Linked DNA regions of Homo sapiens. The protein of the gene in region 1 purifies or fractionates together with the protein of each later gene. This does not show direct contact. Each region holds a gene or a part of one and is shown in the gene's direction. Other genes may lie near its edges.

The links.
Region 2: the proteins of CHIA (region 1) and DNAJC19 purify together in Homo sapiens (co-immunoprecipitation; one large-scale study listed by IntAct). This does not show direct contact.
Region 3: the proteins of CHIA (region 1) and RNF123 purify together in Homo sapiens (affinity purification with mass spectrometry; 2 studies listed by BioGRID and IntAct, with this or other methods). This does not show direct contact.
Region 4: the proteins of CHIA (region 1) and SLC2A8 purify together in Homo sapiens (affinity purification with mass spectrometry; 3 studies listed by BioGRID and IntAct, with this or other methods). This does not show direct contact.
Region 5: the proteins of CHIA (region 1) and MINDY1 purify together in Homo sapiens (affinity purification with mass spectrometry; 3 studies listed by BioGRID and IntAct, with this or other methods). This does not show direct contact.
Region 6: the proteins of CHIA (region 1) and LYPLAL1 purify together in Homo sapiens (co-immunoprecipitation; one large-scale study listed by IntAct). This does not show direct contact.
Region 7: the proteins of CHIA (region 1) and ALDH3B1 purify together in Homo sapiens (affinity purification with mass spectrometry; one large-scale study listed by BioGRID and IntAct). This does not show direct contact.

Annotation. Positions count from the first base shown.
Region 1 is NC_000001.11:111,289,688-111,293,650, forward strand, and holds the start of CHIA (acidic mammalian chitinase isoform c precursor), read left to right. Parts: upstream 1-1,163; 5' UTR 1,164-1,263; intron 1,264-3,963.
Region 2 is NC_000003.12:180,982,596-180,987,114, reverse strand, and holds the end of DNAJC19 (mitochondrial import inner membrane translocase subunit TIM14), read left to right. Parts: intron 1-92; coding exon 93-172; intron 173-1,118; coding exon 1,119-1,189; intron 1,190-2,404; coding exon 2,405-2,475; 3' UTR 2,476-3,406; downstream 3,407-4,519. UniProt on the Homo sapiens protein: Mitochondrial co-chaperone which forms a complex with prohibitins to regulate cardiolipin remodeling.
Region 3 is NC_000003.12:49,713,138-49,717,628, forward strand, and holds part of RNF123 (E3 ubiquitin-protein ligase RNF123), read left to right. Parts: intron 1-375; coding exon 376-450; intron 451-600; coding exon 601-688; intron 689-772; coding exon 773-860; intron 861-952; coding exon 953-1,037; intron 1,038-2,437; coding exon 2,438-2,577; intron 2,578-2,684; coding exon 2,685-2,873; intron 2,874-2,964; coding exon 2,965-3,040; intron 3,041-3,255; coding exon 3,256-3,340; intron 3,341-3,691; exon of another isoform or gene 3,692-4,491. UniProt on the Homo sapiens protein: Catalytic subunit of the KPC complex that acts as E3 ubiquitin-protein ligase. Promotes the ubiquitination and proteasome-mediated degradation of CDKN1B which is the cyclin-dependent kinase inhibitor at the G0-G1 transition of the cell cycle.
Region 4 is NC_000009.12:127,400,169-127,403,668, forward strand, and holds part of SLC2A8 (solute carrier family 2, facilitated glucose transporter member 8), read left to right. Parts: intron 1-2,388; coding exon 2,389-2,585; intron 2,586-3,491; coding exon 3,492-3,500.
Region 5 is NC_000001.11:150,999,799-151,004,289, reverse strand, and holds part of MINDY1 (ubiquitin carboxyl-terminal hydrolase MINDY-1), read left to right. Parts: intron 1-1,321; exon of another isoform or gene 1,322-1,583; coding exon of another isoform or gene 1,584-1,672; coding exon 1,673-2,125; intron 2,126-2,460; exon of another isoform or gene 2,461-2,507; coding exon 2,508-2,565; intron 2,566-2,975; coding exon 2,976-3,040; intron 3,041-3,674; coding exon 3,675-3,833; intron 3,834-4,322; coding exon of another isoform or gene 4,323-4,325; coding exon 4,326-4,428; intron 4,429-4,491. UniProt on the Homo sapiens protein: Hydrolase that can specifically remove 'Lys-48'-linked conjugated ubiquitin from proteins. Has exodeubiquitinase activity and has a preference for long polyubiquitin chains. May play a regulatory role at the level of protein turnover.
Region 6 is NC_000001.11:219,207,943-219,212,433, forward strand, and holds part of LYPLAL1 (lysophospholipase-like protein 1), read left to right. Parts: intron 1-2,572; coding exon of another isoform or gene 2,573-2,589; coding exon 2,590-2,705; intron 2,706-3,549; coding exon 3,550-3,786; 3' UTR 3,787-4,491.
Region 7 is NC_000011.10:68,016,218-68,020,708, forward strand, and holds part of ALDH3B1 (aldehyde dehydrogenase family 3 member B1), read left to right. Parts: intron 1-2,309; coding exon 2,310-2,420; intron 2,421-2,555; coding exon 2,556-2,676; intron 2,677-2,952; coding exon 2,953-3,038; intron 3,039-3,497; coding exon 3,498-3,579; intron 3,580-4,491. UniProt on the Homo sapiens protein: Oxidizes medium and long chain saturated and unsaturated fatty aldehydes generated in the plasma membrane into non-toxic fatty acids. May have a protective role against the cytotoxicity induced by lipid peroxidation.

The DNA of each region.
Region 1 (3,963 bases):
AAAACTTTGGTGAATGTGAAATGATTTATATATGGTCTTATCCAAGCAGGATCAAACAAATTCCATCCTCTGACCCTCTTCCTATGACTGATAGGATCAGTTCAAGATGGCACAGGTTGTCATGTTATTAGGGTGTTATGAGCTCCAGTTAAATGGGTGCAAAGGGAAGGAAAGACAAAGTATGTGACTTATGAGGTTAGTTCCCTCATAACAAGTGAAGAAGATAATCTGAAATAGGCTGATTGAACTAACCGAACTTCTGGGTAGACTCCCACTATAGCTCCGTCTTAGAAAGTCTATGTGATTACTGCTTCTATATAAAGGGTTAAACATGATAAAATTGATGATGGTCCCTATCTTTGTCTATGGAAAAAAATATCCAGTGAGTTTTGGGGGAACTCATGACCCAAGTCATAATAGGAATTTCAGGCTTCATAAAGACATCATGGTTGAAGCAGAGGTGTTCTGTTTCCAGCAAAGCCCAACAGGAAGCTAACTTTTGCTTTTTGAAAGGAGGATTCCCCACCAGACTGGGAAGCAACAGCCTAGGCTCCAGAGTCGGACACTGGACTTAAGTTGTTATCAGATGAATTTGCTCAGCTGCGTACTGTTGTGTTACAAAATCAAATGGCATTAGATACGCTTACCTCAGCCCAAGGAGGGTTTTGCACCTTACTGCATACTGAATGTTCTGTGTATAGCCCTAACAATTCTCACAATATTACTCACAAAGCCATGTTGGGTGTGGTTTTTATTAATTGTGCTTTTAATTCTGCTGTACTTAACCTGTATCTGTAAACTATATCAAATATCCCTTCCCCATGTATCTGTAAGGGTATTTTCCTGCAATTGAGTATCAGATTGAGGCCAAATGTGGAGGAAAAGTTAAATATTAAATTTGAACTCAACTGAACATGGACACAAACAATGGTCACCAAGTCCCGGAACAGGTTGTGTGAGCCCCTTGAGGCGTTCATCCAGCACTGTTTTGGAAAAATCTCTATTTCAATCTAGTCCTATATGTTAGTTATTGAAAAAAATAGACAGTCTCAAAAAACAAGCTGACCTTTTTATGTTCCTTGAACCTAGTTGTGAAGGGCCCTTGTTACTGGGCCTCATGCCAAACAACTCGTTACAAAAACAGCTAGAGTCCCAGACGGTGCCAAAGCTTCATGAAACCTCCTCGTCTGTGCACGAACAGGTGGCCGACTCTGGAGCCCAGGCTGTTGCTTTCCAGTCTGGTGGTGAATCCTCCATAGTCTGGTGAGTGTAAATATATATATATCTTTTCCCTTCTCCCTTTCCCATTGCAATTTGATTGTTATATCAATTTGCTTATTATATCAAGTTGTTTATTATATCGTTTGCTTATTACATCTGCATTGCCATTTATGTGAGATAAAGGTTGTTTACCCTTAAAGGTATTGTGTGTGTGTCTTTTCTCCTCCCCTCACACATCTCTCACACAGATCATTTTATACCCAAAGGGATATAAATCATTCTACTATAAAGACACATGCACACGTATGGTTATTGCAGCACTATTTACAATAGCAAAGACATGGAACCAACTCAAATGCCCATCAATGATAGACTGGATAAAGAAAATGTGGTACATATACATCACGGAATACTATGCAGCCATAAACAGGAATGAGATCATGTCTTTGCAGGGACATGGATGAAGCTGGAAGCTATCATCCTCAGCAAACTAACACAGAAACAGAAAACTAAACACTGGATGTTCTCACTCATAAGATGGAGTTGGAACAATGAGAACACATGGACACCGGGAAGGGAACAAGAAACACTGGAGCCAGCTGAGGGGTTGGGGGCAAGGGGGGGAGAGCATTAGGACAAATACCTAATGCATGTGGGGATTAAAACCTAGATGACGGGTTGATAGGTGCAGCAAACCATCATGGCACACGTATACCTATGTAACAAACCTACACATTCTGCACTTGTATCCTGGAACTTAAAGTAAAATTTTTTTTAAAAAGGGGGGAAAAATATATAGCAAAATGCAACTGGAATTTCCAAATGAATTAGTATTTTATTTAAACATCTATATTTTAAAAATAATTGTAATAATGAGAATACATAGACACAGGGAGGGGAGCAACACACACTGGGGCCTGTCGGGGGGGGGTGGGGGTAGGGAAAGCATCAGGATAAAGAGCTAAAGCATGTGGGGCTTCATACCTAGGTGATGGGTTGATAGGTGCAGCAAGCCACCATGGCACATGTTTACCTATGTAAGAAACCTGCACGTCCTGCACATGTATCACGGAACTTAAAATAAAATAGAATTAAATTAAATCTTAAAAATAGTAATTGTAATAAATTTATATTTGAAACATGTAAGGTATTTAATTCACACACAATGTTTTGTGTGCAAACTCCCCTTTCCCCTATAATTACTCCTCAGCTATCCAAGGACTTGAGGTCTTCAGATTGGGAAAAATAACATTAACTAAAATTTATTAAATAACTAACATGTGCTAGGCCCAGTGCTAGGTAGGTTATCTCATTTAATTCTCACAACAACCCTATAAGACAACAACTAGTATTATCCATATGTAATACATGAGGAAATTGAGGTTCACAGGTGAAATAACTTGTCTAATGTCACATATCTAGAAAGAAGGAGAACAAAAATTGAAATATAAGTTAGCGATTCTAGAGACCATGCTGATATTCTGTTCTGTCATATGGCAACCTTTGTGCTGGACAGATGTGGGAGAATGCTCTCTGCAATTGACTGGCATTGGTTATTCTAACAGTCTTACCCTCTTTGTATGTGAATAAACTGGCATTCTCACTTACATTGACTGCATGGGCCAGTCTCCGTTATCTTTTTTTCCATGTTTTAAAAATGTTTTTCTTGTGGTAAAATAGACCAAAACAAATTACCAACTTAAATATTTTAAGTGTACAGTTCGGTGGTACTAAATACATTCATAATGTTCTTGAGCCATCTCTCCTTTCCATCTCCATAATTCTTTTCATCATGTAAAACTCCAGCTCTATACTCATTAACCTGTAAGTCCCCATTTCCCCCTCCCCCAGCTCCAGGAAACCACTATTCTACTTTCTGTCTCCATGATTTTGACTATTCTAAGTATCTCACATAAACAGAAAAATCATATATTATCTGTCTTTTTGGACTGGCTTTTTTCATTGAGTATAATGTCTCAAGATTCATCCATGTTGTAGCAAGTCAGAATTTCCTTTTAAAGGCTGAATAATACTTTATTGTATGTATATATAACAGTTTTGTTATCCATTCATTCACTGAAGGACACTTGAGTTGCTTGCATGTTTTAGCTATGGTGAGTAATGTTACTGTGAACATGGAAGTACAAATATTTCTTTGACACCAAGCTTTAAGTTATTTTGGGTATACCTAGAAGCGGAATTGCTGGATCATATGGTAATTCTATGTATGATTTTTTTAGGAACTTCCATACTGTTTTCCATAGCAGCTGTACCGTTTTACATTCCCACCAACAGGGCACAACTGCTCCAATTTTTCCACATCCTTGTTAACACTTATTATTTTCTGTTTTTTGATAGTAGCCATCCTAGTGGATATGAGGTGATGTCTCATTGTAGATTTGATAGGCATTTCCTTAATGATTAATGGCATTAAGCATCTTTTTATGTGTTTATTGGCCATTTCAATATCTTCTTTGAAGAAATAGATATTCAAGTCCTTTGTCCATTTTGAATCAAGTTGTTTGGTTGTGTGTGTGTGTGTCATTGAATTTTAGAAGTTCTCTCTATATTCTGAATATCTCTTATCAGATAAACTCTTTGCAAATATTTTCTACCATTCCGTGAGTTGCACTTTTACTCTGTTTGCATTGTCTTTTGATATACAAACATTTAAAATATTCATGAAGTCCAATTTGTGCATTGTATTCTTTTGTTGTCTGTGATTTAGGTGTCATATCCAAC
Region 2 (4,519 bases), on another chromosome or scaffold:
GTTTTTCTTAGTTCTGTGAATATTTCCAGACGTCTTTTTTAAAGCAACTTTATTTTATTAACCTTTCTTTACAAATGCATTTCTTCTTTCAGGCCTTCAGTGGTGGCTATTATAGAGGTGGGTTTGAACCCAAAATGACAAAACGGGAAGCAGCATTAATACTAGGTGTAAGGTAAAATAATCTCTAATATTTTTAGCATTTTTCTACCACTGTAGAGCCATGAGGAAATATAAGAAAGACCTTCTCTCCTTTAATAGGAGAGGGTCATGGGGGATTTTGTCCTAGGAAGATTGATATTACCAATTCTAATCAATGAAACTGTACTGTTCCTTCATGTTATTTTTAAGATGTAAACAATCCTTCAAATGAGAAGGCACACTAGCACTTAAGCACTTTTTCTTTTTTCCTAGAGTGTTTACTAAAACACAGGCACTTTTTCATTTATTTAAAGATAGACTCCTCAGCAGATTATCACAGTGTTCAGTGTTGTTCTCTGTAACTGACATTTTTTTTGTGGTGAAATTCTGCCTTCAACCGGGCGCGGTGACTCACGTCTGTAATCCCAGCACTTTGGGAGGCCAAGGCCAGTGGATTACTTGAGGTCAGGAGTTCAAGACCAGCCTGGCAAACATGGTGAAACCCCGTCTCTACTTAAAATACAAAAATTAGCCAGGCGTAATGGCACACACCTGTAATCCCAGCTACTCGGAAGGCTGAGGCAGGAGAATCGCTTGAACCCGGGAGGCCGAGGTTGCAGTGAACCAAGATCAAGCCACTGCACTCCAGCCTAGGGGACAGAGTGAGACTATCTCAAAAAAAAAAAAAAACAAAACTCTTCCTTCTTCATTTTCAAATCCTTAAACATGCGTTTCTTATCAATAAAAGGACTGTTGTAATGGGTACTGCAAGTTCAACACATTTTTGAGAGTGCCTTACTTTTCTAAGTAGTTTCCCAATTTAGGATACGCATTGGGTGTGTTGAGGTTTCTAAACAGCTTTTCATACTGTTGTGTTAATTTACTACAGTTTCACAGTGTCTTTAATTGGCCTTTATGTACAGTTTTTTGATGTGATGCAGAAGTAGGATGAAGTAAATACCATTTCTTTTTTTAATTAGCCCTACTGCCAATAAAGGGAAAATAAGAGATGCTCATCGACGAATTATGCTTTTAAATCATCCTGACAAAGGTAAGTAGTCATTAAATTCTCGTTGATGTTGTTGGTGTGACCAATAGTTATTAATGGGATAATTTTATCTCAAATTCCTGGCTATTAGAAAGGTAACACTTAAATCTGTAAGTCCTGTCTCCTAGGCTGGAGCCATATATTTTTGGTGTCTTAAAAGAAATTAAGTGAAAACTTTACTTACAGAATGAGCAGATGTAAGTGCTACTATTACTATGTTTTGTGGGTTTTTCTGGCCTACATTTATTATAATTAAAACGTTAAATTTCGTAAAACTAAAATGTAATTTTTCCTTATCCATTTTAGATACCTTGAAACGGAGATTACCTAGATAGAAACTTATGGGATTTATTTATTCGTTTGTGATAGACTTCTATGCAGCCTTGGCTGTGTTGAAGGAAAGCAAGAATTTCTTTGAATACCAAAAAATAGACCACAGAATTCATGTTCTAGTGTTTGTATCCTTTTACTTATACAGGAGAGGGCTTTCATTAATAAAAAGGGTTTTGACATTTTAAACAGGGTTATAATTGTTTGATATCTACTTCACAGTATCTTTTATGAAATTTAGCTTGTTTTATATGGAGGGCTTCTGACTCAGTAGGTCGGCAGTGGAGCCCCATAAATATGCATTTATACTAAATTTCCTGTTATTTCTTGCTGGTCTTAGGACCATACTTTGAGAATCACTCCTCCAGCAGATTCGTAGGAAAGCAGCTGTAGATGACATTGTGAAGGGACAGTAGATAACAGGAAAAGAAAAACTGGACAGAAAAAGGATGTAAAGCAAACTGGGATCTTTCCAGTAAACAGCTCAGAAGCCTCTGAGAATATCATGGTATTAAAATAACATGGTATAATTGATGTTCATTTATGACCTGTAATCATGAATAGGCTAACACCAGTTCAAAGGCATATACATATATATCTAATATATATGATAGAAATCCTATTTCTATCAGTTTAAGCTTTCTAAAAAGGTGTTATTTTTGTAGAAATATCTCCCACGTAAATTACTTCATTTCTCATTGGTCACATATATTACCATATATTTGGTCATCCAGTTGCAGTGTCAGGGTTATTTTTTAAAAATTAAAACACTGTTTCTGCTAAATCTCCCTCAGATAAGCATTGGAGTCCTTGAAACAAGAGTAGCTTTTTACCAAGCAGAAATTGAGAATCCATATTGTAACTGTTCTTTTTTCTTTCTTCCTATAGGAGGATCTCCTTATATAGCAGCCAAAATCAATGAAGCTAAAGATTTACTAGAAGGTCAAGCTAAAAAATGAAGTAAATGTATGATGAATTTTAAGTTCGTATTAGTTTATGTATATGAGTACTAAGTTTTTATAATAAAATGCCTCAGAGCTACAATTTTAAAAAATGATTTAGCACAAGCTAAATCTCAAAGCCTTGGTATAATTTTCTTGTTTAAATTTGGGGATTTTAAATCAGATTATAGTTTAGAATATTTGCGTATTAATTATGGGCAAGCACACACCTTCTGAATAGAAATATTGTTCATTACTCATTTAGCAGATAATTTGGGACCTATGTCTACTTTTCAAGGCAAAGTGAAGATGACAGTCCTTGCTCTCAGGGAGCCCCCACTTTAATGGGAGACTGATAAACTGGTAATTAGACTGTGATAAATAGTATGATGGAAATTAGCTTAAGCTGTTTAAGTAGGGACTCTTCTTATTCGGTGGAAAGGCTGTTCCAGGTACAGGCAACTGGCCTGGCAACTTGGATACTTGGAACCTTGTATTTAAAAGTGAATTTAACCACAACTGAGACCTAAGAAATTGACCTAGGGGTGTGTGTGTGTGTGTATTCTATGTACATATAAACCATTTTTATTTCATGCATTAAAAATAGTATGATAAAGATTTCAGAGTACAGGTCTGGTACAATCACAGTTCATTGCAGCCTCAACCTCCTGGGTTTAAGCAGTCCTCCCGCCTCAGCCTCCCAAAGTACTGGGATTACAGGCATGAGTATTTACATTGTATTCAGCTAGCCCCTTAAAGGTAATGACCATTTATAAATTATTCCTTCAGTTGGCTATTTCTTGACATAATCAAACTTCTGCAATTGTTATGATTAAGCTTAAACCCTGTTAGCAAAACTGAAAACTGAAATGTTCTCAATATCAACATATTTAATTTGGACTCTTTAGAATTTATACACTAATAAATTTAAATGATGTTTAAAGGCAAATTACTTACTGTTTGTCTAACATAAAATATATAAGGATCTTAAGAGGACCTGTATAAAACATCTGGTATAAACTAGTATGTATTTCTCAACAGGAGTATTTCTTATGTGTAGCTCTAAGATGATAAATTATACTACCTACCGTCTAAACTTCCTTAAGTCATCATAAGTTTCTTAATTATTGGAGGATACAAGGACTTTTGAGGTTAAAAAAATAGTGGAGGTAATATTTATCTGCCTTATAAAGTAAAGGTATATCTGCTCTTTGTGTTTTCTATCCAATACCCTCGTTTAAAATCTGATGGAGTCTGTTATGATTTAGTGTATGATGAAACACTAGCTTCTAAGGCTTTTATGCAGGATAAATTATTTCCAGGGACAAGGAGACATGAAAGTACAGCTGGTTCTTGTTTGTGGTAATTCTGTTCTTTAAGGTGGCTATGAACACTGAATTAGCAAATAAGGAACAAGTTCCTAAGAGAAATACAGATTCTGTGACCCTTTGGTCACAATATTGTCTGCCAGTCAGTATATAACCTTGATCGACCTGTTTCTGCTTGAAAACATTCTTTAGTATTTCATTAACTTTCAATTAACAGCCAACAGCACTATAACTAACTCATGCTTGGGACATCACGGCCTTCTTTGCATTTGGGAACACTAGGTAGCATGCTTCACTACTACTCTTAGGAACCATCTTAAAACAGCAAAATCACCAACAAAAAGCACAAACATGAAACTTGGCACTAAATAGACCACAAAAAGGATATCTGTTTATGGTGTGAGAGCTTAAACAAGGTAGAGCATTGCCTTGTGCACATAAAGTGGTTTAAATTTTTTGTCACTCTGCAAATACTCACAAATGACCAGAAAAGGATGTTGATTTTGGAGTTACAAATTTTAGTGAGTAGGCAAATTCACAGATAAGGAATTCTACTAATAATGAGGATCAACTGTATTTTGGTTTACTAACCTTTTATTTCAGTCCATTGGACAAATCAAAAAATGTTTCTCTGAACAAGAGCTTTATGAAGAAATAGTTGAGACTTAAAAGAAAATTTTTCAAAGACAGATAGTGATAATATGCCGACAGGCAATGAAGCATTAACTCTAAAA
Region 3 (4,491 bases), on another chromosome or scaffold:
CAGGCAGTGAGCTGTCAGGCCCCTAGCCTGCCCCCTGCCCAGCCACAGGCCTCAGTGCAGGCTTTGTCTTCAAAGACAGAGCTGTGAGTGCCCAAGGAGCTTTGACTGCTCATCAGGTGTGTGTGCTGAGATGGGTTTGAGCCCAGGTCAGGGCTCCTGCCAGGGCCTGTCATCCCTTCACAGTGAGCCTGTGCCTTAGCCCTTGCACAGCCACCAATGAATGCTTTGCCCGATGTCCCCAGATGCCACCCTGGGTCCAGGCTGGCCTTGGGAGCCAGCTCTAGAGCCTGCTACCCAAGTCCACCCACCCTGCTGACATGCCTGCCTCTGGAGCCCCCACTCCCAGCCGACACGTCTCACTTCCCACCCTTGCAGGCTATGAAGAGACCCTGACCCGCCTGGCTGCCATTCTCGCCAAACACTTTGCCGACGCACGCATTGTGGGCACTGGTGAGGGGCCCCTACAGAGGGTACAGGGGGAGGGGGATGGGATGGCACCTCTGGTCGGCTTTCTTCTATGAAAAATGTGGCCAGGTGGGCATGAAGTATGGGTCCAGGGCTCATGCCAAGCCCCTGCTGAGGCACGGTGTGTCCCCGCAGACATCCGAGACTCACTGATGCAGGCCCTGGCCAGCTACGTGTGCTACCCACACTCCCTGCGGGCTGTGGAGCGAATCCCCGAGGAGCAGTGAGTGGGGCCTGGGGGGCACACACCCTGGCCACAAGCACCATGCCCAGCCTCACCCCGTCTCTCCCCTCCTTGCCCTCACAGGCGTATCGCCATGGTGAGGAACCTCCTGGCGCCCTATGAGCAGCGGCCCTGGGCCCAGACCAACTGGATCCTGGTGCGGCTCTGGAGGGTAAGCCTGACTCGAGGGGAAGTGGCTGAGGCTGGCTGGAGGGAGAGGGTGCGCTGTCCCATTGACCTGGGCACTGACCCCCACCTCCACAGGGCTGTGGCTTCGGGTACCGCTATACACGGCTGCCACATCTGCTGAAAACCAAACTTGAGGACGCCAATTTGCCCAGCCTCCAGAGTGAGTATCTGGGTTGGGCGAGTCCTGGGCAAGGCAGGCGGGGGCGCTTACCTCCTACCCATGGGTTCTTTCAGACTCTCCACTTCTTCCAGCCCCTCTCTGGTTCCCCCATTGGGTCCCAGACTCCCTACGTGTCCCCTGGGGTTTCCACTTTCCCTGCTTCCTTCCAGCCCAAGGATACTCGGGATGGGACTCCCCCTCCCCAGCCTTGCCCACAGTCTTACCTACATGTGCCCTTTGGGCCTGGATGCTCTATGTGGGTCATGGTGAGAGGCGGCACCATGTTCCTGGCCTGCTACAGCTCATGCAGACTGAATACTCTGTCCCTTGCCCTTTAAGCTAGCTCCCTGACCTCCAGCCTTGTCCCAGCACCATGTCCTTCTGCTTCTTTTTTGCTATCTGCTGGTGGCAGACCCTGGCCTTGGCTTAGGCCTTGGACACCTGAGTCCACTGGGAGCACAGATTGGAGGTTGGCCAGGTCCCCAGAGGGTATTCACGAGAGTTCCTGGAGGAAGGGACATTTAGTTGGGAGCAGAGGCTGTGCCCTCTCTCCAGGGTCCAGCAAGGACTTTCCCCTAGGCCTGGCCCTTGCAGAGTGCCAGGTGTGCCACACACTGTCCTCACCCTTCATGGTGGCTCTTCTTGGCTCATGTAGTCTGTTTCTGCCCTTGTGGGCAGTGTTTTGGTCCAAAGGGTGTCCCCAGAGAGGCTGAGTGTCTTCTGCTAAGTCACACAGCAAGTCCTTGCCAATTGCCGTGGTCCTGCGTCCAGGGCGGAACTGAGCTGCAAGTGGAGAGCGGCAGTGGGGCCAGGCCTGTCCTGCTGCTGCGGGAACTATTGATTTGTATCAAGCTGGTGGGGAGGTGCGCCAGGCCCGTTGCAGCTGAGGGCTCCGGTTACTGCTGCCTGCCAGCCCAGACTTGGTGCCCACCACCTCGGCCATATGCCAAGGCCAGGCCAAGGGCAGCAGAGGACAGTAGAGGACAGCAGGTTTGCAGCAGGGCTTAGAGTAGGCTCTTGGAGGAGCTGGCCTTGGTGCCGGTGGGGAAGCATCTAAGCCGCCCTGTTTAGGTCTGACCCTATCTGAAGGGTGTGCGACCCAGAACTTGCTGAGGGTCAGGCTGTGGCTGTGTGGCTGCTCTGGACCTGGAGTGGATGGTGTGGTGTCAGGGCTGGACACAGCTGCAGCCTGGGGCTTGCCTAGTAGAAGGAGGGGACAGATTCTGTCCCAACTAACTCCAAGGCAGCTGTCCTCTGTCCCCTGCTTTCATGACCTGAGCATTCCTAGGGAGCCATCTTTCTGTCCTTATACCAAAGCCTCAATGGGCGAGGACAGAGGCAAACAGGCAGAGGCCACTGCAGTGGAGTCCCTGATGATGCCGCCTCCTGTCCCCCTGCAGAGCCCTGCCCTTCCACCCTGCTGCAGCAGCACATGGCGGACCTCCTACAGCAGGGTCCTGATGTGGCACCCAGCTTCCTCAACAGCGTCCTCAATCAGCTCAACTGGGCCTTCTCTGAATTCATTGGCATGATCCAAGAGGTGGGCTGTGGTGGGGCCTCGTGGGTTAGGGTGGTGCAAGGGATGAGGCCTGGTCCTGGGCTAGAGCCAGGTGCTGACCACTGCATGCCCACGTGTTGGTGGCTCAGATCCAGCAGGCTGCTGAGCGCCTGGAGCGGAACTTTGTGGACAGCCGGCAGCTCAAGGTATGTGCCACCTGCTTTGACCTCTCGGTCAGCCTGCTGCGTGTCTTGGAGATGACTATCACACTGGTGCCTGAGATATTCCTTGACTGGACCCGGCCTACCTCTGAGATGCTGCTGCGGCGTCTTGCACAGGTGTGGCCATCTGGGCAACAAGGGTGGGACCCTGGGGATGCCCCATTGATGACGCTCCCCATCCACCAATGGACTCCTGCTCCCCTCACAGCTGCTAAACCAGGTGCTGAACCGGGTGACAGCTGAGAGGAACCTGTTTGATCGTGTGGTCACCCTACGGCTGCCTGGTGAGGACCTAGATGCCCTGCACCCCAACACACTACAGGCCTCGGTTCCTCTGCTAGGAACAGTGAGGCCTGATTCCACATTCTGCCCCCGGACAGCCAGACTTGGTGCTCTGCAGTCTCGGCTCACCCTTCTGTAGAGAGGGCAGTGGGCAGGCCTGGAGCCCTTGAAGCAGGAGCATGTGGGTGGCTCATCTCTTTCCTCCCCTTCCCCTCAGGCCTAGAGAGCGTGGACCACTATCCCATTCTGGTGGCAGTGACGGGCATCCTGGTGCAGCTCCTGGTGCGTGGCCCAGCCTCAGAGTGAGTGTTGGGGACCGTGGGCCCCTGTGGGAGTTGGGTGTGTCTGGTGAGGAGGGGCTGGACAGGGCCTCCTGGTACTTCAGTTTCCTCATCTGGAAAATGGACCTCAGCATCAGGTTTTGAGGCAGAGGGAAGGTGGTGAGGTGTGAACGGCCTAAATAGGGGGCAGACGGAGCTGCTCTAAGTAGGAGAATCTGGGACCCCAGCAGGACAGGTGGCCCTGGCCCACAGAGCCACTGGCTTGTGGCCATGCCTCAGGCCAGGCATGGGAGGCAGGACTCCGGAGGGTGTGCCGTCCTGTGGTGGACAGGGCCAGGCCGCCAGGAGAGCTGAACACACGGAGGACCGCCATTGTCTGCAAAGGCTCTAGCAATAAGCATGTGCTACCTTTATTAAACTCTGGAGCAGCGAGGTCCAGGATGGCCATGGGGGCCCCCAGCTCGGCCCCCACACATGAAGGGCTCCCAGACCCCCCTTCCCTGCCCCCCTGCAGTGGGAGCAGTGAGATGCATATGAAGCCAGGGTACCGCCTCAGCCATTAGGCTGAGACCAGTGCCAGCCCTTAAGAGGCTCCTGCTCTCGAGGGACGTGGAGTTCCGGCTCGGCCCTCCCAGCTCGGCCATGCTCGCCAGGCTTTTCGGGCTTTTTACTGCTGAAAAGCAGGGGTGCAGGCCATGATCCCCTTCACTGTGTCTTGTGAGCCCACAGAATGGGCTCTGCCTTCAGAACAACGGGTGGATGCCCCAGGCCAGAGAGAGCAGGGCCTCTGGCTGGGGCTTAGGCCAGACCACCAGGAACCTCTTGAGGAGCCTTTCCTGCCTGGTGCCTGCCCACCGGACTCTGCGTGAAGTTGTGAAGCTTTCAGGAGGTTGGGTGTTGGTGGATGGAGGGAGTCCCATTTCACCAGAGGGCGGGCTTGTTTCCTCTTTCTGTCCTGGGGTGTGGGCGAGATCTTCCTTCAGAGCCGCCTTCTTTTCCCTGTGGGCCCACTCCCTCCCACCCCCTTGGGAAGGGGAGGTGGCCCTGCGTCAGCTCTTGAGCACCACTCCTCGAGAGCTGTCTCAGCCCCTGAGGGTGGACGGGAGGCTCTGCTACAGGGGTTCTTCCACAGGCTGTAGAAGAACACAGCCACTTCCACAGCTGTGCTGTGT
Region 4 (3,500 bases), on another chromosome or scaffold:
TTTTTTTTTTTTTTTGAGACAGAGTCCCGCTCTGTCGCCCAGGCTGGAGTGCAGTGGTGGCTCTCTGCAACCTCTGCCTCCTGGGTTCAAGCGATTCTCCTGTCTCAGCTTCCCAAGTAGCTGGGACTACAGGCATGTGCCACCACACCTGGCTAATTGTTTGTATTTTTGGTAGAAAGGGGGTTTCACCGTGTTAGCCAGGATGGTCTTGATCTCCTGACCTCATGAACCGCCAAACCTCAGCTTCCCAAAGTGCTGGGATTACAGGTGTGAGCCACCGCGCCCGGCCGATAGGTGTGTCTTATGACTGAGTTCCAGGGACAGCTGGAGAAGGTGATACCCTCAGCTTTCCTGAAGCCCCCTCTAGGGGTGTGGGAAGGGCTGACTGCTTAGGTCAGTACCTTACTGTGCAGTGACAAACCAGAGGGCTCCAGAGGTGGGTGGGTCCCTGTAAAAATCTTCAGCCCGGGCGAGTAAAGGGCTGAGCAAGTCCCCTGAGAATGTCAGTGCCAGATTCACCATGTCGGCGAGTTGCAACGTGAAGGAGGCCGGGGTCCTGGGGACCCCGAGGGGCAAAGCTGGGCCAGCATGAAGAAACTTCAGGAGACAGGTGTGTTCTCATTAGAAAGAGGCCAGGCTTTAGAGGCCAGACCCAGTGGCTCACACCTGTAATCCCAGCACTTTGGGAGGCAGAGGTGGGCGGATCACTTGAGGTCAGGAGTTCGAGATCAGCCTGGCCAACATGGTGAAAACCCATTTCTATTTAAAATACAAAAATTAGCCAGGCGTGGTGGTGGGCACCTGTAATCCCAGCTACCTGGGGGGCTGAGGCACAAGAATTGCTTGAACCCAGAAGGCTGAGGTTTCAGTGAGCTGAGATCGCGCCACTGCACTCCAGTGTGGGCGACACAGTGAGACTCTGTCTCAAAAAGAAAGAAAAAACAAGGGCAGGCTTCAAATCTGACCATCCTGAGTTTGGGGATAGCCTCTCCTACGTGCTGTGTGACCTTGGCCAAGTCATACCACCTCTGAAAGCCTCAGTTTCTCTGTCTTGAAATGGGCATAACCTCATCTAGTCCAGTACCTGTCCATTAAATTAATTGACACATGAAAAGTGCCTAACAGTGGGTTCCAAATGAGAATTGTCAAGGGATGACTTGAGAACCATGGGGATCATCGGGGTAGGAGGCCTCGGGGGCCTGACGGGCTATGGCCTGGCCCAGGGCACAAGCCCTCTGCATCGTCAGGGCGGATGATACACAGGTCTTTGGTGTTTCATTTTTACCCACTTAACCACCCTAACAAATTCAGAATCCTGCCAGCGATCTGGCTACCTTGGGAGACCTGAGTAAACCAAAGCCCCCACTGTGTGCAGGTGTTGACATTCATCATTTCGGGGACAGGTACTGGGTGTCCACCCACCCGTGGCACTATCTTCAGCTCATCTTAATATGTGCTTGTTGCTTCTCCTGCCTTTCCTGATCAATTTCTGTGAGTTTCGATCCACTGGGGTGGGTGAACTCTGATAACTCCACAAAGTGACATGGTGGTGGCACGTTTGCTTCACATTGGGGCAATCATGTTCCAACGACTAGACTTCATAGAACAATTGTCTGCACCCCCAGCACAGAAGAAAAATAGGGACATCATGGCTACCTTAGAGGTATTTTTCCACTGGGAACCAGGGATGGGTAAGCCTTGGGCTTAGGAAAAATTAGTAATTAGAGCAGCAATGCCCTAGACTCATTTATTCCAGGGCCCCTTTGTAAGAGAACCTTTTAACTTTATATAAAACTAGGTAATTCTGCACTTATGCTGTTCTTCATACGTCAAGACAGCAAAATCCTCTCACCTCTCTACTTTCATGTATACTTTGAATAGATAATGCATTCAAATGACTCAACACTCAAGTGCCAGAGTGGAGAGATGTCCAGTGAAAAGCTTCCTCCGCCTCTGTCCCTTTCTTGTCTGGGGGAGTCCCCATTGCCTGTTTCTTGGTAGCCTTCAGAGAGTCTGTTCATATGAGGGACATGCATATTTATCCTCCCTCCCCCACCTCTTCTACAAATGGTGCCACATCATACCATGCGGACACGCAGCAAGCACCTCATCCTTCATTTTTGTGGCTACATAAATGTTTCGTTGAACGGATGCAGCCTAGTAATGTCCGCGTTGTCATACCCACTGTCGCTTCCGCAGCTGGTGTGATTGGCCCGTGCCATGTGCCTTCATGAACAGTTGTGATAATGGCAATGTCAGTAGCGAACATGAGGGCAGATGTGCAGAGGCAGCGAGGCCCCATCTCTGAAGCTGAGTCTTTGAGGCTGGCAAGGCCCAGGCTGGCTCACCCTGGCTCTGACGCCAGCCTCCTCCACCCACCCCCCGCAGGCTGGGTGCTGGAGTGGCGCTGGCTGGCTGTGCTGGGCTGCGTGCCCCCCTCCCTCATGCTGCTTCTCATGTGCTTCATGCCCGAGACCCCGCGCTTCCTGCTGACTCAGCACAGGCGCCAGGAGGCCATGGCCGCCCTGCGGTTCCTGTGGGGCTCCGAGCAGGGCTGGGAAGACCCCCCCATCGGGGCTGAGCAGGTGAGAGGCTGGAAGGCAGAGCTGACAGGAGTGGGACAGCAGTCACGGGAGGGTAGCACAGCCTGTTCCCAAGGCCACACACTTGGGGGGTGGGGGACAGGGAGGTGCCTATCCACCCTCCACCCTCAGCGAGGACAGGCCCAGTGTGTCCTGTCTTTGAGCAGGCCAAGACAGCTGGAGCCCCACGGAGCTGGGCCCTGGCCTCCAAAGTCACCAGCAAAGCCCGAGCTTTGACCCTTACTGTCCCAGGAAGAGAATGGCCAGGCCTGGTGGGGGATACAGAGGCAGAGCTGAGGACTTGGATTTAACAAAGGAGTTGCAAGGCAGGGTAGAGGGCTAAAAGTCTGGGTTTTAGAGTCACCCAGGCATGGGTTTGAAGCCCCCACGCTGCCCCTCACCTAAGCTTTAGCTCTTCACCTGTGATGTGGGAGTCAGCACCTGCTTCACAGTGCTGGGTGGGACTCAGTGGGGGAAAGGAAGGCGGGGCTTAGGGAGGAGGGGGGCTCAGTGGGGAGGGTGGGGTCAGCGAGGAGGATGGGTTCAGTGGGGAGGGGAGGGTCAGGGCTGTAGGAGGTGCTTAGCTAGGGCCAGGCCCAGACCTGAGGCAGGTGCTGGATGTGTTGGTGGTGGCAGGGATGAGGGCAGCAGCTTGCTCTTTGCCCAGATTACCTCTTTGTGGCTCCCCCCCACCTATCAGGAAGTGCCCTGGGCAGGTGAGGGTCATCTCACCTGACACATGGGGAGGCTGGGACTTGTCTGCACACCTGAGGACACAGGGGGTGCTGGGATGAGGAGCCAAGACGTGGGAGTCAGCGCTCCCCAAGCCTTAGGACAGTAGACCCCCAGAGGGGGGCCGCTTGCGGGAGGGGAGAGAGAAATCCTGATGGCCAGTATCCGTCAGAGCAGAGCTTTCAC
Region 5 (4,491 bases), about 40 Mb from region 1:
TGCCTCCAGTGCTGATAGAGAACAGGTTAAACAGGTCCGGTGTTCACATCTAAAATGACCTGGAGAGGACTGGGCACGGTGGCTCATGCCTGTAATCCCAGCACTTTGGGAGGCCAAGGTGGGAGGATCACCTGAGGTCGGAAGTTCAAGACCAGCCTGACCAACATGGAGAAACTCCATCTCTACTAAAAAATACAAAATTAGCTGGGCATGGTGTTGCATGCCTGTAATCCCAGCTACTCGGGAGGCTGAGGCAGGAGAATCACTTGAACCCAGGAGGCAGAGGTTGCAGTGAGCCGAGGTCGCACCATTGCACTCCAACCTAGGCAACAAGAGCAAAACTCTGTCTCAAAAAAATAAAAATAAATAAATAAAACCACTTGGATGGGAATAGACATAAAACTTTAGGTAGGTGAATGTACAGGAAGTATTGTTATGTAAATTAATAATCAGCATTTTCATATTTCATAGAAATAGCAGGCAAGAGAGTACCTCTGGGTTTAGGTAGTTTCTGGGGAAAAAAAATGAACTGAGGAAAAGTTGCTGTCTCAATGCTAGCTGTCAAGAGATGCTTACTGGGTCCAGGCACCGTGGCTCATGCCTGTAATCCCAGTCCTTTGGCAGGCTGAGGAGGGCGGATTGCTTGGGCCCCCAGGAGTTAAGACCAGCCTAGGCAACAAAGCAAGACCCTGTCTCAGTTTAATTAAAAGAAATTTGATATCTTTATTAATTTTTTTTAAAGAGAAGCTTACTGGAAGAACTTGTGGGGAGTGCTTTTTGTGCCCCTAATCTGAAGTTATTTATCAAAACCAGTCTCTGATTCCAGCCCCCACCACCTACATTTCCCCTCCCAGCTTACAGGAAACCCCTCCCAAGGCCTTTATACTGTGGTTTGGGATTGTGTAAGGTTCAGTAGAGCCCTTTGAGGTGGAAGACTTCCCCTTCCTCACCAGCATTTCACCTTTAGGGGCATGAAACTGACTCTCTGTGCCTCCTCCATTCTTCACCCCAAGTACTATGTGACTTAATCTTTTTATCCTTGGGTGAGGCAGAGAGAAGGTATCCCTAAACATACAAGCACTGTGTATTCTTAGTATGTTGTGTGAAGGGGCAGGGTGTGGGGTAGGGCAGAGGAATTATCTCTGTCATGGCTATGAGGGGGTTACTGATGTGATGCCTATTAGAGTAAGCTAAAGATCATCATATTAATAACCATTAGCGTAGATTTAACATTTCTTTCTCCACCTCTTATCCTTCTTTCTCCTTTGTGCTCTCCCTTTCTCTCTGTCTTTCCTCCCTTCCCTGTCATGATCTGTTTCAGGGAAGCTGACTCCACCCATGTGTTCAATCCCACCAGTCTTCCCTCCCAAGTCTGGAAGCCCCACGACCTCTTGGTCTCATCTGGTCACAGCAAGTTAGAGGTGGAAAGAGCTCAGCACGGGGCCCTTCTGTTTACACATATACTGCCCATAGCCAGGAGTTACTGCACAAACACTAGCCAGCCTTCTACACTACATTCCTTTTCCAAGACTTTTCTGGGTTAGTTTGCTTTCCAGCCCACTGATTTCCTTCTTATTGGACAGGTCACTCTTTTGCATCCCAAGCCTGGCTTAGGCAAGTCCCTGAGGTTAGTAAACACCTTCAGTGCCCCTCAGCCAAGTCCCTTTTGACCATGGAATACCATCAGCCTGAGGATCCAGCCCCTGGTAAGGCCGGGACTGCAGAAGCAGTCATCCCTGAAAACCATGAGGTTCTGGCAGGCCCAGATGAGCACCCTCAGGACACAGATGCAAGAGATGCTGATGGGGAGGCTAGAGAACGGGAGCCAGCAGACCAAGCTTTGCTGCCTAGCCAGTGTGGGGACAACCTTGAGTCCCCTCTGCCTGAAGCTAGCTCAGCTCCACCGGGGCCAACCCTTGGGACACTGCCTGAAGTAGAGACAATAAGGGCATGCTCCATGCCCCAGGAGCTTCCTCAGTCCCCCAGGACCCGACAGCCTGAGCCAGATTTCTACTGTGTCAAGTGGATCCCTTGGAAAGGAGAACAGACACCCATCATCACCCAGAGCACTAACGGCCCTTGCCCTCTCCTTGCCATCATGAACATCCTCTTTCTTCAGTGGAAGGTAAGAGAACATGCAGTTAGGGGTGCAAAAAATATCAGGGAGTACTCTTCCCTGACTTACTTCCTTGATCATCCTGATGTCCTCAAACTAGTCAAAACTTTTCAGATTGTTCTCCCTATTTCTCCAGCTTGAGCAAATGAGATAAGATGTTCCTAAAAACAAAGAAAAAAAAAAAAGAGGAAGATCTGTCCTACCCCTGTATCTCCTACTCCCTAGCAAATGCACATGCCTTGCAAGATTTCACATTCATTCCCTTGTGCCAGTTGCAAGCCTTTTTTCCTACCCCACCCTACTACTGGAGCTCCCCCTTGCCTTTCCATGGGTTCTTCCTTCAGTGCTCTTTGGAGGAAAGCACACACGTGATCACCCCTTCTGCCTCCAGGTGAAGCTCCCCCCGCAGAAGGAAGTGATCACATCGGATGAGCTCATGGCCCATCTTGGTGAGTGACTGGGCGTTGAAGAGGAATTACCCAAGGGGCTCCAGAGCTATCCACTCAGCCAGAAATCCAGACTATTCAGGGATCTCCATTTGGGGGTTCTGATACAGCAGGGAGGGTAAGGGTCTATGGGGCTTCTCTGCAAGGCTGGAGAATGAAAAGCAAAGGCGTCGGGAGTCCTGGGTTGTAACACCAATTCTGCCCTTAGCTTTTGTATCTGACCCTGGGTGGGCCGTTCACCTTTATGAGGCTGTCGCCTCCTCTGAGAAATGAAGAGTCTGGATTAGACTCTAAGTATTTTCCAGCTCTGAAAATCTGTGTTCTGTGACATTACCCGCATTCTCCAGGAGAAGAGGAAACTTAGCTTTTGGGATGATTGGTGGGGTAAGCTGATAAGGGGCCCTGTCTTGTAGGAAACTGCCTCCTGTCCATCAAGCCCCAGGAGAAGTCAGAGGGACTTCAGCTTAATTTTCAGCAGGTGAGGCAAAAGGTCTGCAGGCATAGGGGTTTGCAGGTTTGTAAGGGGACATCTTGTAATACTAAGATAAGCTTTTGTTGCTTCTTCAGAGGTTTCCTTGAACCATGATTTCATTCTGCAGGAGTCAGAGGAGAGTTTATCTTTGTCCTAGAAAATATGTTCATTGGCCGGGTGCTCACACCTGTAATCCCAGCACTTTGAGATGCCAAAGCGGGAGGATCACTTGAGGCCAGGAGTTCGAGGCCAGCCTGGGCAACATAATAATACCCCTGTCTCTAAAAAAAACCATTTTTTTTTTCAAGAATTAGCCAGGTATGGCGGTGCGTGCCTGTAGTCCCAGCTACTCAGGAGGCTGAGGTGGGAGGGTCACTTGAAACCAAGAGTTTGAGGCTGCAGTGAGCTAGGATCACACCACTGCACTCCAGCCTGGATGAAAGAATTAGACTTAGACTCTCAAAGAAAAACAATGTTCATTTATATAAGATAGAGAAGGGTTGAGGCAAGGGAGAAATGGAGTGGCTTGTAAGAGAATCAGGGAAGAAGAGCAGCAAGGTTAATTTTTAATTTCTGCAGGTGGGAGTGGAGTGGTGGGAGAGAAGGCTAGAATCTCCATCATTTTTTTTTCTACCCCCAGAATGTGGATGATGCAATGACAGTGCTGCCTAAACTGGCCACAGGTCTGGATGTCAATGTGCGATTCACAGGCGTCTCTGATTTTGAGTATACACCCGAGTGCAGTGTCTTTGACCTGCTAGGCATACCTCTGTACCATGGCTGGCTTGTTGATCCACAGGTGAGGGTGGGAGGGCCCACTGGGACCTTATCCAGCTCAAGCTGACATGAGAGAGGCAAATTTTTGTCGGGTAGAGGTTAGGGAGTTAGGGGTTAGATTGGCTTGGGAGGGAAATAGTGTTTAGAGACTGGACCCAGTACAGAATTCCTTGAATTTTAATCTATTTTGGGGGTAACATGCAAATACAAGCAAACTACATGCAAATAGGTCAGTTCTTTAGACATCAAAAATTCAGGAAGCAGATGGGTTTGGTGGCACATGCCTGTATTCCCAGCTACTTGGGAGGAGTTCGAGGCCAGTCTGGGCAACATAGCAACCCTATGATGAATGGTTCCTGAAATTTTTTTCTTTTTTGAGAGACCAAAAAAAAAAAGTGTTTAGGAACCATTCATCACAGGGTTGTAGTCCTTGTGAGCTTTGTTCATTTCCTTCCTTAAAAAAGAAAAAAAAATCCCAATTTTTTTGGTATCCCACATCCCACTACCCAAGCAGAGTCCTGAGGCTGTGCGTGCAGTTGGGAAACTGAGTTACAACCAGCTGGTGGAGAGGATCATCACCTGCAAACACTCCAGTGACACCAACCTCGTGACAGAAGGTGACATTCCTCCCCTTCTCATGGATAGTATGTGGAGGGAATGACAGCTACTTAGGCTTATTT
Region 6 (4,491 bases), about 110 Mb from region 1:
AAGTCTCTTTTTTTATTCTCTGTGTCTCACTCTTTGCTCAAATCCCATCTCTTCCTCTCTCACATTCTCTCCTATTTTAGAGATGTAGTTTTATTATTAACAGTGTGTTTGATTTTAAGCAACCTGAAATTCCTTTGTAAGTAAATGGGCTGTAAAGAACAGAGGGGAAATTGGAAGAGATGAAGGAAGTGAGTGTTTGGTAAGCTCTATTCTGTGAACTTTTAGGAAAGCTAGAATTGTGTTCTGAGAGATAGGGATTCTTAAACTGAAAGTAGATTTCTGTATTTACAGTAACTGTACATTTTAAAAGTTCTCGCAATTTTAGTTTTTATAACTGATTAAGTATTTGTATTTAAAAGGTTGGTGGAAAATCTAGAGATTAGTCCATCTATCTTGTTTTACTATAAATGAAATCCAGCATTTTAAATAATTTACACAAAGACATTCAGCTTGGGAGTATCACAGGCAGGACTAGAACTAGTTTCCTTAATGTTGTCTCTTTGATAAGCTTAAGAGATATTTGTAAATTTTTTACTACTTTCATTAGAAACCCATACGGTTTCTAAAAATTCAGTTAAATTTTTATTGAGTTACTGCTATGTGCAAAGCACTATACTTACCACTGAGCGTGTAAAGTTGAAACTGACTCATTAGTATGCGTGCACCACAGAGACACTTTGTTCAGCTAATCATAAGCACTCAATGAAAATATGATTATTGAAGAAAAACTGTTTCTTACCCTTAAGGGTTTCAAAATCTCAATAATTTATATTCAATAAATTAAATCGATAAGAATTTTATTTCAAAATGTCTTCGCTTTACAACCCTCATGATGTTATTAAAGAGAAAACTTCATAAGCAGAGAGAAATCTGTAACTAGAATTGTGGCAAAAAACAATAAAGTTGAGATTTTTTTCTGTGTACTTACAATAAATGTTTACCAGAAATACTAATTTGTGTATTTACGTAAGCTGTTCATATCTAAATGGGACATGTCAAAGATTTATTAATGCACAAATTCATGGATAATGTAGCCCAGTGGCTTTTAACCTTTTGGAGAATCTAATGTACATTTGCAAATTTTACATACAGTGTTAAGATGCTTATGCTTTTTTCTCCCCCACCAAGCTCATTTATGAACTTCTAATTAGATGTATCTACATCTGGAGTTATTGGGGGTATTTTGAAAGAGCCTTTCAGGTGGCTCTTGTCCATGGTGGGCTACTGCTACGATAAGAACTTATTATTTCTTGCTGGTATGTTGAAAATCACAGATAACTTTTATTCATTATTTACATAGTGTGCCTTTTTTAAAAAATCTAAACTTTGCCAGACTGGTAATCTTCTCTCGGGTATTTGTGTTCTGAGTCCAAAATAATATTACCTGCCTATTCCAGATAAAGTAGTCCTATTTTAATAAATATCAAGGGATAGTAGAAAGTATATTAAACTCTATTGCAAAAGATCCGAATTCCAAAATTACTATTAATAGTTTTATATTTAAAATAATATGTACCTAATCTTGGGCCTCAGTTCCCTCCATGTATAAAAGATTATTGTAGTAAATTCAAATTTATGGTCTCTTAAGAGCTCAGCTTTACACTTTGTTAAGTGAAATAAAGCAGCAGACTTGAAATTAGGAGATTTGAATTCTACTTCAAAGTATATTTTTGTATTTCTATGAGTGTGTGGCTACATGATTTACATTCTGTATTTTCTCATGGAATATAATGAGATGTCATTTAGCTTTCTCTCAAGCTTAGGAATGTCACACTGAGTCACTGACTTGTCGTCAGGCCTGGAATCACCATTCTCTCTGCTGCCGTCACCTCATAACAGCTATCTCCATATTCTGTGTTGGATGTGTTTCCTTCTCAAAGTTCCCCTGAACAGGAGGGTCTGTGTATTTTAATCTGCATATATCCAGTGACTGGCATAGAATTGGTACATTAAAGAGACAATAACAGTTTGACTAATTTTTTTTTCAAACTTTGGTTTTAAAAACTACATATAGGCATACATGTTTCATTTTTATTATATCACCATAAATTAGTTTCCAAAATAATATTGTAATCCAAAAATGTGTTAACTAGCTCCTCAAATTTTTTTTATCATTCTTAATTCAGAATTCACTAAGCATCTATTATATAGCAAACACCAGATACATAACTCCTTATGGAGCTCACAGCTTAGCAAGTAAGACAAAAAGGTGCAAATTATTAATTGCGTTGCAGTGTGAGGGTTTCTGTACGTGTAAACAAAATATAAGTAAATATTGAGAATTTAAGTAATGCTTGTAATATGACTCATTTTGAATTACGATAGATATTTTACTTGGTGAACATGATATATTTGTTTAATCCTGGCTCCTTGTAGAGCACAGCTCTCTTTACCAGTGGTGACATAGAGGGAACAGGGTTATTTATGTTATCGCAGGCCTTTGTCTGTGAAACTTAGAGTAGACGAAATTTCTTTTTAGCATTCTCTTTAAAGGTCTCCAGATATTTTAAAAATATGGAAAATTGTTATATATCATATCCTAAATTATTATTTTATGTATTCTACTTTTAAGTATGTTTTTGTTTTTAGGAGGATTCTCTATGGGAGGATGCATGGCAATACATTTAGCATATAGAAATCATCAAGATGTGGCAGGAGTATTTGCTCTTTCTAGTTTTCTGAATAAAGCATCTGCTGTTTACCAGGTAAGTTCCAGATTTAAAAAAAAATGAAAAAAATATGAAATATATACATGTTAAAACTAAAGCAAAATCGGTAATAAAGCTGTAAAACACACACACAGTTGATGCACAGTTGATATGGATTGACCATTCCTGGAATTCATGGCCAAATGAGTCGTAGTGATTAAATTCCAGCTGATCATTAATGTTTTGGAAATCCCCTGTACAAGAAATATTGTTAAGCAAAATGTCAAGGAGGAAAGGATAATCATGTGTGTGGTTGTGGGGGAGCATATATGTAAATTTTATACATATTAAAACTGCATGATGGTTATAGCTGGGTTTGCTTATTGCATCATGAACATAAAACAAAAATCAATTACATAGCACATACTTATTATGCAGCAATATCCTCATCTATGAATATGATGCAGCTTCAATTATAATGTTACAGCTTCAGTACCAGAAGTGGAAATGTTAAAGCAGATACAGAATAGAGAACTAAAATGTAATTGTCCCCTTGATTGTGCCTTAGCTGTGTACTCCTCCCTCCTTCCACATTGTGTGAAGAGGTCTGTCTTCCCAAGTCACTTAGTTTCTTTAGGAAATGCTTTGGCCATTTTTAAGACGTCCTCTATAGAATAAATGTAAGTGACACACAGTTACAAATTGAGTGATGCCAGGAACCAGCTAAGTCCCCAGGCCTGGCCCACCAATGTATACCTCAGACAGCACTCCCTCTGCCTTTTTTTTCCCATTAGTTATTGAAGCCTTGGTAAAATTGGAATTTTCCTGTTCTCTCTGATTTCTAAGAATGATCTTAAATGGAATTTCTTAAACTTTTCTGTCTTTGTATCTTCTTCTCTAGGCTCTTCAGAAGAGTAATGGTGTACTTCCTGAATTATTTCAGTGTCATGGTACTGCAGATGAGTTAGTTCTTCATTCTTGGGCAGAAGAGACAAACTCAATGTTAAAATCTCTAGGAGTGACCACGAAGTTTCATAGTTTTCCAAATGTTTACCATGAGCTAAGCAAAACTGAGTTAGACATATTGAAGTTATGGATTCTTACAAAGCTGCCAGGAGAAATGGAAAAACAAAAATGAATGAATCAAGAGTGATTTGTTAATGTAAGTGTAATGTCTTTGTGAAAAGTGATTTTTACTGCCAAATTATAATGATAATTAAAATATTAAGAAATAACACTTTCCTGACTTTTTTATTATTAAAATGCTTATCACTGTAGACAGTAGCTAATCTTATTAATGAAAAACAATAGACAAACATCTGTGCATAATTTTTCAGACACAATTCTGTAAATATTTGGAAACCTTTTAAGTATTTAAACTTTTAAATTTTTGAAATAAAGTATTCTAAACTAATATAAATAAGGACAATGAAAAAACATGAAAGGACTTAGCATAATGTTATTTTATCTTTTCTACAACTTTGTTTAAATTACCTTTCCAAAGATATTTGTGTTTATGTAATTTTCCACGGAATAACATTAATACTCTAGGTTTATAAACCGGTTTCACATTATTTCATTTGATCATCACAAGAGCTTTGTGAAGTAAGCCGAGAAGTTGTTACTGGTATTTAATAATAGCAATAGAGGAGTTAAAGACTTTCCCACAGCTTGCAGGTCAAGACAAGAAATTCAGGTCTCCTAATTCTCAGTGGAGCTCTATTTCTGTTAACCCAAATTGCTGCTCTGTTTTAGGTCTCAATTTCATCTGTAAAATGATACTAATAGTACTTATCCCATTGGATTTTTGTTGAGATTTAAATAAATAGCCAAAAGCCAATAC
Region 7 (4,491 bases), on another chromosome or scaffold:
TAGAGCAGAGACGTGAAGATGGAGGGGAGGCTCCCCATGGATGCTGGGGAGATGGCAGCGGGCACAGCACGTGCAAAGGCCCTGAGGCAGGAGGTGCTGGGTGTTTCTGCTTGAGGAGCAGCAAGGAGGCCAGCATAGCTGTCGGGGGTGGGAGAGGAAGAAACAGCAAAGATGAGGTCTGGGGTATGGGCCACACTATGTAGGGCCTCGGAGGCCGTGAGGCCTTGGCCTTCTCTCTGGGTACAGCAGGCATCATGGCCTCTGTCTAGACCCTGAAGGCTTGGGGCCTCAGCCCCTCCCAATCCCAGTGGCAGCCAAGGCAGAACCCCAAGAAACACACTTCCCCCAACCCCTCACCCATCAGGGCCCATGCACCTGCCTGCCCCTGCCTCAGGACACCTGCCCCTGCCTCAGGACACCACCTGCCCCTGCCTCAGCACATCTGCCCCAGGGGCTGCCCCCGGCTCCTATTCTCTGGACAAAATATCTCCTCCCTTTGCCTTGAAGGCTGTAGTGTTCAGACCTTCCCCCAGCCCATTGGGCTCCCTGGGGACTGACTCCCCCGCCACCACTGAGCTTCTGCCACCGGCCGCCTGCCGGCCTTCATGAGACTTGACCTGACGTCTGTCTGGTCCCTTTTCTCCCTTCGGCTCTGATTCCACCTCCTGCCTTCCCATCCCAGCTGCAGGAGCGGGGCCCTACAAAGGCAGCAGTAGCCCAGAACATTCAACCTGGTCCCTCCCTCTGGACCTGGTCACCCCCCTGTCCCCACCCTCAGCAGGCAGCATCTGCCCAGCGTCACGTGCACCCTCTCAGTTAACCCTTTGGTGAATCTGGTTGGGCAACCACACCCAGTGGCCCCCAGAAGAGGCTCAGAGAGAGTGTGTTCTTGCCCAAGGGCATGCAGCCAGGAAGAGCAGAGCCAGAGTTTGAACCTGGCTCAAAATAGCCCAGTCTCCCAAAGTCAGGTCCCAGGTGACCTAGGAGGTGTGGCGGGCAGGCCACCAGGCTCATGGGGCCAGAGCACAGGCTGTGGGAAAGTCCGTGTGGAAGGCACCTTCCCCCAGCCTCAGTGGCTAGGAGGTGCCAGTGGGCGTGGCGTCTTCCTCCCTCTTGGGGCTCAGCTGTAGCCCTGGCCTTGCCCCTGGTTCGCTGAGTGACCTCAGGCAGGGCATCTCCTTCTCTGGGCTTCGCTGGTCCTCTGGCCCATCCAGCACCCCACTGGCCCGTCCCCCTCTGCCCTGACCCGGGAGAGCCTGCACCCCATAACCTCAGGCGCTGCCTCAGCCAGGGAGCCAGCCTGGCCCCAGTGTCCCTGACCTGTTCTCCAGCGGCCTGCAGCCTGCTGCCTGGCTGGTCTCTCCTCCCTTGGGGCGCAGAGGGCAGGGAGCACTGGCTAGCCGAGAGCAGGACAATGTCCCTATTGATTCGGGTCTCCTCACTCCTGCTTAGAAGCCTGACAGTGGCCCTGGCCCCTGGGCTGTGGGAACTGACAGCATTTACCTAGGGGTGGCTGTGCCTGTGTCTCCTGTGGACCAATCTCCACCCTGCTCTTTGGGAGACTGAGGTGGGAGGATTGTTTGAGGCCAGGAGTTCAAGACCTACCTAGGCAACACAGCAAGGCACTCTGCAAAAAATCAAAACAAACTTTTTTTGAAATTAAAAAAAAACAAAACCCTAAGTCAGATCCCATCCCTGCTCTTCTCAGGAGTCCTTGCCTGGCTGCCTGGCCCCCTCACCTTGCCCACTCTGCTTCTTGCTAAACAGGAGCAGAGCAAGCGCACAGCCACCTCGGGGCCTTTGCAGCCGCCAGGGCCTCTGCCCAAAGTATGCCGCCTCCCAGTACCCACGACTTGCTTGTTCCTTGACTTCAGGTCACTGCTCCAATGTGACCGCCGCCTGGAGACCTGCACTGACCGCTTTGTAAAAACAGCACACACACACATGCTCATGTGGATGTATACATGTGCACACCTGTGCACGCCCACAGCCACACGCTCCAGCAGTCTCCACCCCCACCCTGCTCCATGATTTCCCTAGCACAGCCACGTCCTAATGGAGCCGTCAGCGTTCTCACTTTCACATGGAACGACTGCCCCCTGCAAGGTCGGCCTCAGGGCCGGTCCCTCTGTTTGGCACAGAGACAGCACCTCACACAGGAAGCACGCACTGAACATGGAGTGAGTGAGTGAACGAATGAATGAAAATGAATGAATGAGTTGTGGAAGCAGGCCCTGCCTGGAGGAGGCTGTGCCCTCCTGCCAACTCTGGGAATCCTGGCCCACCCTGACCCCACCCACTTCCTGCAGTCAGCCTTCGAGTCGGAGGTGTCTGAGGTTGCCATCAGCCAGGGCGAGGTCACCCTGGCCCTCAGGAACCTCCGGGCCTGGATGAAGGACGAGCGTGTGCCCAAGAACCTGGTGAGCCGGCCGGGCTGAGGCGGGCAGGGGGCTCAGGGGATATTTGCTCCCACAGGGTGGCCCCTCTGGGTGGGAGCTGGCTGCTGAGGGGCCGGGGTGCTGAGCACTTAATTTCATCCCCGGCTCCCGGCCCAGGCCACGCAGCTGGACTCCGCCTTCATCCGGAAGGAGCCCTTTGGCCTGGTCCTCATCATTGCGCCCTGGAACTATCCGCTGAACCTGACGCTGGTGCCCCTCGTGGGAGCCCTCGCTGCAGGTGAGAGCTGGGCCTGCCCCTTCCGGTCACCCTTCTCCGCTCGAGGCCTCAGGGCCACCCATGGATCCCAGGAGGACATGGGAGAACTGGCCCAGGTGGCAAAGAGGACTGTCTGGTCCACCGTCCCCGGGCTGTGTGGCCCTGGGCCCGTCATGTTACCTCTCTGAACCAGGTTCTGCATCTGAAAGTGGGTGAGGCTGATGCCTGCCCTGCAGGTGTGTGGAGACCAGGAGCTGGCTACGCCTCCTCCAGCTCTCTCCCTGCACTGCCCTGCAGGGAACTGTGTGGTGCTGAAGCCATCGGAGATTAGCAAGAACGTCGAGAAGATCCTGGCCGAGGTGCTGCCCCAATACGTGGACCAGGTGAGCAGGGCTGCCGGGCAGGTAGAGCGGGAACAGGCAAGGCTCAAGGGCTGGGCAGCCCCTGGCATGGAAGGGCCTGTCAGTCAGACCCGAGTCCCCACCTCAATCCTGCCTCTTCTGAGTTGTGTAAACTTGACCAAGTCACCGCCCCTGTCAGCCTCAGTTTCCCTCTGAGGAGCAGCGAGGGCAGCCTGTTGCCCAGGGGTTCCGTGTCTGCCTCCACCTGGCCCTGGCATCAGCCCCTCCAGCGCCAGCTGGACTCCAAGCTGGGCCTGCCAATGCCAGCCAACCTTGGGGAGCTCCCTTCTCCCCACTTTGCCTCCACCCAACCCTCCTAGAGCCCTGGCTGGGTCAGGCCAGGCGGGGTGGAGGCAGGGCAGGGTCCAGGCAGGGCGGGCTGCTCCCTTGTGTTCTCGGAGCTGGGGTCCCAGAAGGAGCCTCACCCATCCCGCCTTGCAGAGCTGCTTTGCTGTGGTGCTGGGCGGGCCCCAGGAGACGGGGCAGCTGCTAGAGCACAGGTTCGACTACATCTTCTTCACAGGTGAGGCCGGGACGAGGGTCGGGACAGGCTGGGGTCGGGGAGGACAGCTGCTCAGGGGTCCTGTCCCTAACTCTGGGAGTCCACAGGGAGACTGAATTCTCCTCTCTCTCTCTCTCTGGACCAGGCTGGGAGCAGTCCTGGACCCCCAGGACCCCTTAGGAAGGGATGGAGTCCCATGTCCAGGGCCAGCCCACTGTGCCAACCACAGCGTCAGGAACCATAGCCTCTGCCCCCACTGTCCCCAGACCCTCATACGTGACCCTGCTGCCCCCCAGGCTCTTAGACACCACCCTACTGGTGCCCACAGCCCTCTCTGCAGGCAGATGAGGGACTGGGCCTCAGTGTCCTGCCCAGGGTCACCCTGCTGGCCAGGATGGGGACAGGCTGGAATGTGCACACAAGCCCTTGGAGAAATCCACGCCAGAGGTCACTTTTTTTTTCTTTTTTTTTGAGACAGAGTCTTGCTCTGTCACCCAGGCAGTGGCACAATCTTGGCACAATCTTGGCTCACTGCAACCTCTGCGCCTCCTGGGTTCAAGTGATGCTCATGCCTCAGCTTCCCAAGTAGCTGGGGTGACAGGCATGTACCACCACGCCCGGCTAATTTTTTGTATTTTTAGTAAAGACAGGGTCTCACTCTGTTGCTCAGGCTGGTCTCGAACTCTTGGCCTCAACCAGTCCTCCTGCCTTGGTCTCCTAAAGTGCAGGGATCACAGGCATGAGCCACCACACCCGGCTTCGAGTTTTTGAGCTAGGGAGGGGCAGAGGGAGCGAGAGGAAGACAGTGGTGCTGGCAGGCGAGTCTGCGCCTTACAGGTCGAGGCAGTCGTGGGGAAGGGCCTGGCAGGATTGACCTGGCCGCCTCCCAGCAAAGGCAAAGGAGCCCTGGAAGGAACCACAGAGCCCAGGAAG